2 separate regions of the Homo sapiens genome follow, and region 2 is linked to region 1. Evidence: fine-mapped expression QTL. A gene starts in region 1. The other region holds a variant in brackets. All regions are shown on one strand. Distances are between the middles of the regions.

Region 1 (4,401 bases):
CAGTATGGCCCACTTCGTGGGGGATGCATGATGGTGAGAGCCAGAGACAGCTCTTGGAAAACCTGTGAATTGGGTGACCTAGATTTCAGAGCCACTGCTTGCTTTGTGGTCTCCCTGTGACATTTTCTCTGGGCCTCCCTGAGGAGGGAACACCCCCACTGAGACACTGCTCTGGGCTTTCCTTCCCACAGCAAAAGCCCATCCACTTGCTCACCCTCCAAACACAGGCGCCATCCTTTCCCCAGCTCCAGCTCCAGGTCTGGGAAGAAAATCCTCAGTTACTAAGAATAACAGTTTGACACACTTCCCTTCCCAGGGACATCTACCTTTTAATGGTGGACATGACAGAACTCAAGGAATCCTCCAGTGAGGAAGGTTTAGATGCTCAAGGGTAGACTTGTAGCACAGAGATGGCTGAATTTTTATGCCCTACTAGGTGGGAACTGACTGCTTGGACTGAACATGACTCCCAAGGCCCCTGAACTGTGGCCTGGAGAGCTTTTAGTTCACAGAGTAACTCTCTCCCTCCGTCCCCAGCACCAAACCCTTTCCATGTATAAGTGTGGACTCTGGAAGCGGCTGTTCTGGTAGCTGCAGGAGGGGCCAGGCTAGTTTTGACAGTTCTGGCCACTTCCAGAGATGGCTCTTGGTTCTCAGGCCCTTGGCTGAGCAATGGGGGCAGCTGTCAACAGCTCTCTCTCCTCTCCCCTTTCCCCAGCTGCTCTGACTCTTCATCAGCAGGCTGAGCTTCTCCAAGCCTCAGTTTCCCACAGTGCCTCCTCGCCCCCTTCTCATCAGACGCTTGCCACCCATGCTATTTACGGTCCTGGGTCTCTCCAGTTTTCATGAGAGAAGGCCAGTAACATTTTCTTAAGCGAGTGAATGAGTAATATAAATAAAATCATATGTAAATAGAAGCAATTTTTGATGACAAAACTGTTTAAATTCTCTTAATTTATTATCCTGAAGCAATTAGGAATGTCCATTTTCTTTTTGGCTGAATTAATAAAAGTATAGCAACTAAAGCAAAGACATGAGAATCCTCTTAATCTGGATACGCTGTGTTTGAAATAACGTGTTTGGTGCTTTCCACTTCTTCAGTTTTGTTATTTATTTATTTTTTAAGTAGAGACAGGGTCTCACTAAGTTGCCCAGGCTGGCCTCGAATTTCTGGGCTCAAGGGATCTACCTGTCTTGGGCTCTCAAGGTGCTGGGATTACAGGCATGAGCCACTGTGCCCGGCCCCGTTTCTATTTTAATCAAGAATATGTCAAAAGAAAGAGGAGCCAGAGACAGCCTTCTCTTAACACAAAGCAGGGTGTTGTATCTTCATCTGACAATAAGTGACTTAGTTAACTTTGATTTAATTTTGGCTTTTGGGAAGTCATGGGGAAAAGAAGTAAAGCTGAGGGTGGCGAAATACCTTTGCTAAACCCAGAGACACTGCACCTGAATCCTGCTCAGTGTTTTGTAGGCAACCAACTGCCTTCTGCCACTGGTATCCGGAAGGGGAAATGAGTTACCTTAAGTGGGCCAAAGTGGGGAAATACTAACAGTACAGCTAGAAACCAAGAGCTGTCGTGAAAGCCCTGAATGGGTTCCCACTGCTATTTCAGACAAAACTGATGCAGTTAAGCCTGAATTTCCTGGCAAGCACAAGGGTAGATTTTTCCAAAAGGCTTTTTAGACTGCAAATACACAGCCTTTCCATGTCTAATCACAAAAGCAAACTGCTGGACACATGCTCTCTGTTCCCAGCTGGTTGTGTATGTTTTCTTCACACTTCAACAGAAACGTGCCAAGGTGTGACATTTATGAATTTCGCCAACTGGGAACTGTGCACACAAATCGTTCTTGCTTGTGGTGTGGGAAAATGATGAATGGGGGCTGTTCTGCCTGGGGAGGAGGGCTGCTGTCACTCTGGCATGCCTACAGCCTTATTTATTACACACCAAAGTATAAAACCACTCCGCCGCTGCAGCTCTCAGCTCCAGTCCTGGCATCTGCCCGAGGAGACCACGCTCCTGGAGCTCTGCTGTCTTCTCAGGGAGACTCTGAGGCTCTGTTGAGAATCATGCTTTGGAGGCAGCTCATCTATTGGCAACTGCTGGCTTTGTTTTTCCTCCCTTTTTGCCTGTGTCAAGATGAATACATGGAGGTGAGCGGAAGAACTAATAAAGTGGTGGCAAGAATAGTGCAAAGCCACCAGCAGACTGGCCGTAGCGGCTCCAGGAGGGAGAAAGTGAGAGAGCGGAGCCATCCTAAAACTGGGACTGTGGATAATAACACTTCTACAGACCTAAAATCCCTGAGACCAGATGAGCTACCGCACCCCGAGGTAGATGACCTAGCCCAGATCACCACATTCTGGGGCCAGGTACTCAGAATTCTCTTCTAAGGATTTTTGTGAAAGCTTAATGAGTGTTGTTGTTGTTGTTTTGTTGTTGTTCTTTTTTTGGCTAAGATTCTTAGAATCAATGAATGCTTTCGAGAAGTTCGCTAAGCTGCTTGTGAATCTCTTTCTGGATTGCTCTTGGGTACAAGAGAGACTGTCGGTCTCTGTTAGAAAATCAGCAGAGGCAGCAATGATGTGATGGGATAGTGGCCGTAGCATCACCCCATCAGAAAGGGGAACCTGGCCAGCCAGCTTCCTGCTATGCTGGGACTTGATTTCCTTCTTGCTCTGTTGGTCCGGAAAGGAGTGCTGACCCATGCAGACAGATCGGTCACTGTAGACAATCATTTGTTGTTCTTAAGAGAATTGGGCTTTCTTCATCCCTTCCGGCAGGGAGAAGCTGCCCTTTGAGTTTGTCAAAAGCAATCAAAGTTTTTTTACTTTGATTTGTGAGTATACTGTGACATTTCATGGCAGTCTTGTTTATTTGATTTATAGCATTCTAGATTGTTAAGCCTCTCTGTTCAGCCTGTTTTAAAAAGAATTAAAGAGTTAAATAAAAAATAAACTGTTTGAAATGCATACCTTATAGCATGATTTGATGCCTGATAATCACAGAGGACTTGATCTATTTCTCAGGTTATAAATTCAGCTCTAAGGAAATATCTTTAACTCTTGGTAGTATGAGAGTGAGTTAAGATTTCAGTATAGTGAATTGCAAATTGGTGAAACTCAATGTAATTTAAAATATTAAGTACAGGAAGAGACATATTTTGAATTACCCTCTAGACATCTAGTATGCTGAAAACTGTCAGAGGGGGCAAGAAGAGTTACTTTGAGTTATATGATATTTGAACATACAGGTTTTTACTACAAGATTTGATTACTTTAATGCATTAAATAGGACCTGAAGAATTTCTTGTAATTGAAATCTAAATCCTTCCTACCATGGATTCAGAAGTTTGGGTTGGTTGTTTGGTTATATGGTCAGACCAAGATCACACACAGAATCAATTGCAGATTTGAAACTAACCCAGAACTTCTAACTTGACCACACAAGGCAGTTGCCCAAACCATTCTGTGGGGGATGCATCCAGAGAAAATTGCTTCTTTAAGGAGCCACGGAAGAAATGATAATCTCTAAATATGATCCTATCTTTTGAAAACCACTTTTAGAGATTGTCTATTCATCTGATAATCTTTTGGCTAAAGGGTAATGATTAGCACTAATTTGTGTGTGGGTTTTTGTTTGTTTTTGTTTTGTGGTGAAGATATTTTCACTTGTGTCCAAGACTTGATCTGGACTTTCCATTTCACACATGGTATCCTTCTTGGCCAACAGATGGTATCTTTCCTGGCCATGACAGTGTGATTCCCCCAGAGGAAGCAGAAGGAAGTTAAAGGTTGTCTTTGGTCATTATGTCCTGACAACCAACACCCAGCAGGCCACTGAAATTCAAATCACATTTCTCCTTCACTCTACCTTCTAGGTTCCTGAAGTATTTTCAAACAAACCACCAACAGGAGATATTGAGGATATTTAGAGTTACTGACATTCTGGAAGTTTTCACTACAACTCCTCTACCAACGGCTATGGAAACCACAGTTTGCATTTAGGATTGTGCTATGTTCTTCCTTCTTTCCCTACTTCCCCTGTCCCTCTTCTTTGATCGTAATTCAATTTTCCTCTTATTCATTCAGTTCCCGTGTATTTCTTGTGCTTCTACTTTGTACCAAACTTTAAAAGGGGGGCCAGGGATATATAAAGATAAATATGCCTGAGCTCCCATGTCCAAACCATCCTGAAGGGCTGTAGTAGAGATAAATTTTTGTTAATTAAATTAAGTTTAATTAAATGCCATGTGTTAAATAAAGTCAGTACATGAAAGGCAATTGGGCAAAAGTGTCAAAGTACTGATAGTTTTTGAGCTGGATCTTAAAAGATGGTATTAAAAGAATGACTATCCACAGCAAATTAAAAAAAAAAAAGTGCTGCAACAGAGACT
Region 2 (4,401 bases), 280 kb before region 1:
TTTTGAACTTGCCAGTTCCCATGATTATCTGAGACAATTCCTTAAAACAAATCACACATACACAAACACCCCTCCTATTGGTTCTGTTTTTGTGAGGAACTCTGATTGATACTCCAGGTATCAATTAAAACTATCTGTGAATAAACACAAAAACAAATTTGTTTCTAAAATAGCCATTTAATGTGGTTGTTCTTGGTTCACAGTTTTCCTACTAGTGTTGATTCAGAATCCAGATTTTTTTTTATTGTGTGCAATATAATTCCCTAAAGTAGTTCACAAAGAAGTCACCACTTCTGAAGCTTGAGGCCCCAACCACAGAGAGTTTTGTTTGCTGGTTTGTTTGTTTTGTTTTTATTTCTAGTAGATTTGATTGGCGATGAAGAATTTGCATTTCTTTTTTTTTTTTTTTTGTCAGGTTTGTCGAAGATCAGATAATTGCAGGCGTGTCATCATATTACTGCATTCTCTATTCTGTTTCATTGGTCTGTGCATCTATTCTTGTACCAGCACCATGCTATTTTGGTTACTGTAACCCTGTAGTATAGTTTGAAGTCGGATAGCGTGATGCCTCCAGCTTTGTTCTTTTCGCTTAGGATTGTGTTGGCAGTTTGGACTCTTTTTTTGTTCCATATGAATTTTAAAATCATTTTTTCTAGTTCTGTGAAAAATATCAATGGTAGTTTAATGGGAATAGCATTGAATCTATAAATTGCTTTGAGCAGTATGATCATTTTGATTATATTGACTTTTTCTATGCATGAGCATGGAATGTTTTTTCACTTGTTTGTGTCATCTCTGATTTCTTTGAGCAGTGGTTTGTACCTACATGCAGCCAACAAGCATTTGAAAAAAAAAGCTTAGTATCACTGATCATTAGAGAAATGCAAATCAAAACCACAATGAGACACCATCTCACACCAGTTGAAATGACTATTATTAAAATATCAAAAAATAACAGATGCTGGCAAGGTTGTGGAGAAAAATGAACGCTTATACACTGTTTTGTTTTTGTTGTTGTTGTTGTTTTTTGTTTTTTGTTTTGTTTTGTTTTCCGAGATGAAACCTCACTCTGTTACCCAAGCTGGAGTGCAGTGGCACGATCTCGGATCCCTGCAAGTTCTGTCTCTTGGGATCAAGCAATTATCCTGCCTCAGCCTCCCAAGCAGCTGGGACTGCAGGCCCATGCCACCATGCCCGGCTAATGTGTGTGTGTGTGTGTGTGTGTGTTTGTGTGTGTGTGTGTGTGTATTTTTAGTAAAAATGGGGTTTCACCATGTTGGCCAGGCTGGTCTCGAACTCCTGACCTCATGTGATCTGCCTGCCTTGGCCTCCCAAAGTGCTGGGATTACAGGCATGAGCCACTGCACCTGGCCATACACTGTTGATGGGACTATAAATTAGTTCAGTCATTGTGGAAGACAGTGAGGTGGTTCCTCAAAGACCTAAAGACAGAAATACCATTTGTCTCAGCAATCCCATTACTAAGTATATACCCAGGGGATATAAATTATTTATTCTATTCATATTATAAAGACACATGCACACATATGTTCATTGTAGTACTATTCACAATAACAAAGACATGGAACCAAACCAAATGCCCATCAGTGATAGACTGTATAAAGAAAATGTGGCACATATACACCATGGAATACTATGCAGCCATAAAAAAGAAGGGAACCATGTTCTTTGCAGGGACAGGGATGGAGCTGCATACCATTATCTTGAGCAAACTAACACAAGAACAGAAAAGCAAGTACTGCATGTTCTCACTTATAAGTGGGAGCTAAATGATGAGAACACACAGACACAGAGGGGACAACACACACTGGGGTCTATAAGAGGGTGAAGGATGGGAGGAAGCAGAGGATCAAGAAAAATAACTAATGGATACCAGGCTTAATACCTGGGTGATGAAATAATGTGTACAACAAACCCTCATGACACACATGTACCTATGTAACAAACCTGAAGAGTTTGCATATGTACCCCTGAACTTAAAATAAATGTTACAAAAACATCAAATGTACTGCAGTTGTTTTCCCTAGAAGGATTCAAAGATTCATAGAGGGCATGCATCAGAACAATCTAGAGTACACGAAAGAGGCAAAATTCCACAGCCCCAGTCTTGTTCTACTGAATTATAATGTCTGGTAGTACAGGCTAAGATATTGCATTTCTAACAATCTCCCCATATAATTGTGTGCCTTAAAATATTAGATGAAGTAGGCTAAGTCACAGGGAAGTGATACAGATTCAAATAAAAAGAATGCATACTTATTTTGAAACAAGCAATTATATCAAGATTTCAAAGAATAACTAATTTCTCACTTAGCACTGTTTCAAAGTAGACTCATGTTTATTATCTATTAGGCGAAAATATTTGAGGGTGGTATCAGTCTCATCAATACGCAGGTCATAGAGATTGTAAATATTCTCACCTTTTGTACATTTTTTGAGATTATGGAAATTTACAGTTTATGTAACAAAAAATAGAAGAAAAAATAAAGCTCAGTAATATTTCCAATTGACCACTGTTGGACAGGTAGAGAAAATAAGGCACAAAAACCATAAGTAGATAAAAATAAACATACGACTGTATCTTTACAAGGAATAACTTGCCATAAGTTATTGTATCCTTTCTGAGGTACAAATGCATATTGACAGAAG[A/G]CAGTAGTTTACTCCTTTAATACTGTACAGTCTATAAAACAAAACTTCACAGAATTGAAAAATGGTCTCATTCACTAATATTAAGAATTAGAATAAGTCCCCAGCTATCTTTGTTTTATCTTTAACAATTATATTAATTCCAAACTACTTTATAGTACAAAAGTTGTATGCAGTTCCAGGCTATCTAAGCAGTCTTGGAGTTTAGTTTATTTTGTTGTTGTTGTTGTTGTCTGTTTGTTTTTAATATGATCACCTTTACTTTTCCTAAATCTGGAAGAGAAATGCACAAAGTTGTAGTGGGCCTTGTATCTTATGCTTGTGGAAATTACTGTTGAATGTCTAGTGTCCTCACTCGCCCTGCTTTAAGTACCAGGCAATGCAATTCCATTGCATTCGGGAAATGCCGGAGAGACCTCGATCTCAGAGAGGTAAAACCCCACCAGGGTCCCAGGTGATGAATCATACTTTGTCAAAGCAGTAATAATCCGACTCCATTTCATCGGTGCTTAGTCTAAGGATGTTCTTATAATTCAGTGCTAGTCATGAGAAGAAATCAGCTGAAGAATCTAGTATCTCCCACTGCTATAAAGAAATAAGTGAGACTGGGTTACTTATAAATAAAAGAAGTTTAATTGGCTCTGCAGGCTGTCCAGGAAGCATGATGCTGGCATCTGCTTAGCTTCTGGGGAGGCCTCAGGAAACTTACAATCATGGCAGAAAGCAAAGGCAGAGCTGGCACTTCACAGGGCTGGAGCAGCAAGGGCTGGGGGAGGTGCCATACAGTTTTAAACAACCAGATCTCATAAGAACTCACTCACTATTATGAGAACAGCACCAAGGGCGAATGGGGCTAAACTATTCATGAGAAATCGACTCCATGATCCAATCACCTCCCACCAGGCCCAACATCCAACACTGGGAATTACAATTCAACATGAAATTTGGGCTGGGACACAAATCCAAACCATATTAGACCTTTATCACCTACTATGTAGACAAAACATATGTTTTTCTTCTGTTCTCATGCCACAGTTATCAACACAAGAAGTTTCTGTGACTAAATGTGTGGAGATTTCTCTCTGTTCACAAGCAAGCAAGCAATTTTACAGCAGCTATCAGCTGGCAGCTCCTGATCCAGTTCAATTCTGATGCTGCCTACCTGAAGATTATGTCAGATCTCCACAGCTTGAGAGCTCAGTCCCGCAAGACTGCCCCCAGTTCCTTCACCAGTCACAAGTCCAGACCCTTGGAACTTCTGATCTATTGCTTCAAGTTGGAGTTCCCATGGCCTTCTCTTTAGGCTCTATTAATTTGTTAAAGTGTCTCAGAAAACCCAGAAAAACATCTGTTTACATTTACCCTTTTATTATCAATAACATTTTAAAGGATACAAATAAACAGTCACATGGATAAATATATAGGGAGAGGTCTGGAAGGGTCCTGAGCACAGGAGCTTCTGTCTCATGGATTGGGGGCGTGCCACCCTCCTGGCACATATGTGAGCTCTTGTTCACCTTTCTGTAAGCCTTCACAAGTTCAGCTGTCCAGAAGCTCTCCATCCCCCATTCTCTTGGGCCTTTTAGGAAGACTTCCATGGAGAGGTATGACTAAGTTATGGACCACCATGTCAAAATGTGATTGGATGAAATGAGTGTGATCTAATACTGAGTGGAAAACCCAGCAAGGCCTGTCTGCCCAGATTCTTCTTGGCCCCTCTGTGCAGCATTCTTT

Direction of the effects. Positions count from the first base shown, and alleles are read on the strand shown. Sizes are in standard deviations (SD) of each study's normalised expression.
In carriers of allele G in region 2, the expression in testis of the gene that starts at base 1,987 in region 1 tends to be lower than with A alone (moderate effect, 0.65 SD a copy in GTEx).

Evidence for each region. PIP is the estimated chance that this variant, and not a neighbour inherited with it, causes the effect.
Region 2: its variant is fine-mapped to the expression of C1QTNF3 in testis (GTEx, PIP above 0.99).

What each region holds. Positions count from the first base shown.
Region 1 is chr5:34,040,799-34,045,199 of GRCh38, reverse strand. It overlaps C1QTNF3 (C1q and TNF related 3), which reads left to right and starts at 1,987. Exons shown (of 6, transcript NM_181435.6): 1 at 1,987-2,377. The coding sequence starts at 2,075. The region is part of intron 1 of C1QTNF3-AMACR (C1QTNF3-AMACR readthrough (NMD candidate)); the gene reads left to right.
Region 2 is chr5:34,316,358-34,320,758 of GRCh38, reverse strand. No RefSeq gene overlaps it. Among named protein-coding and RNA genes, the nearest start is that of C1QTNF3-AMACR, 190 kb to the right of the region's middle. The variant A/G (reference allele first, on the strand shown) is at 2,671.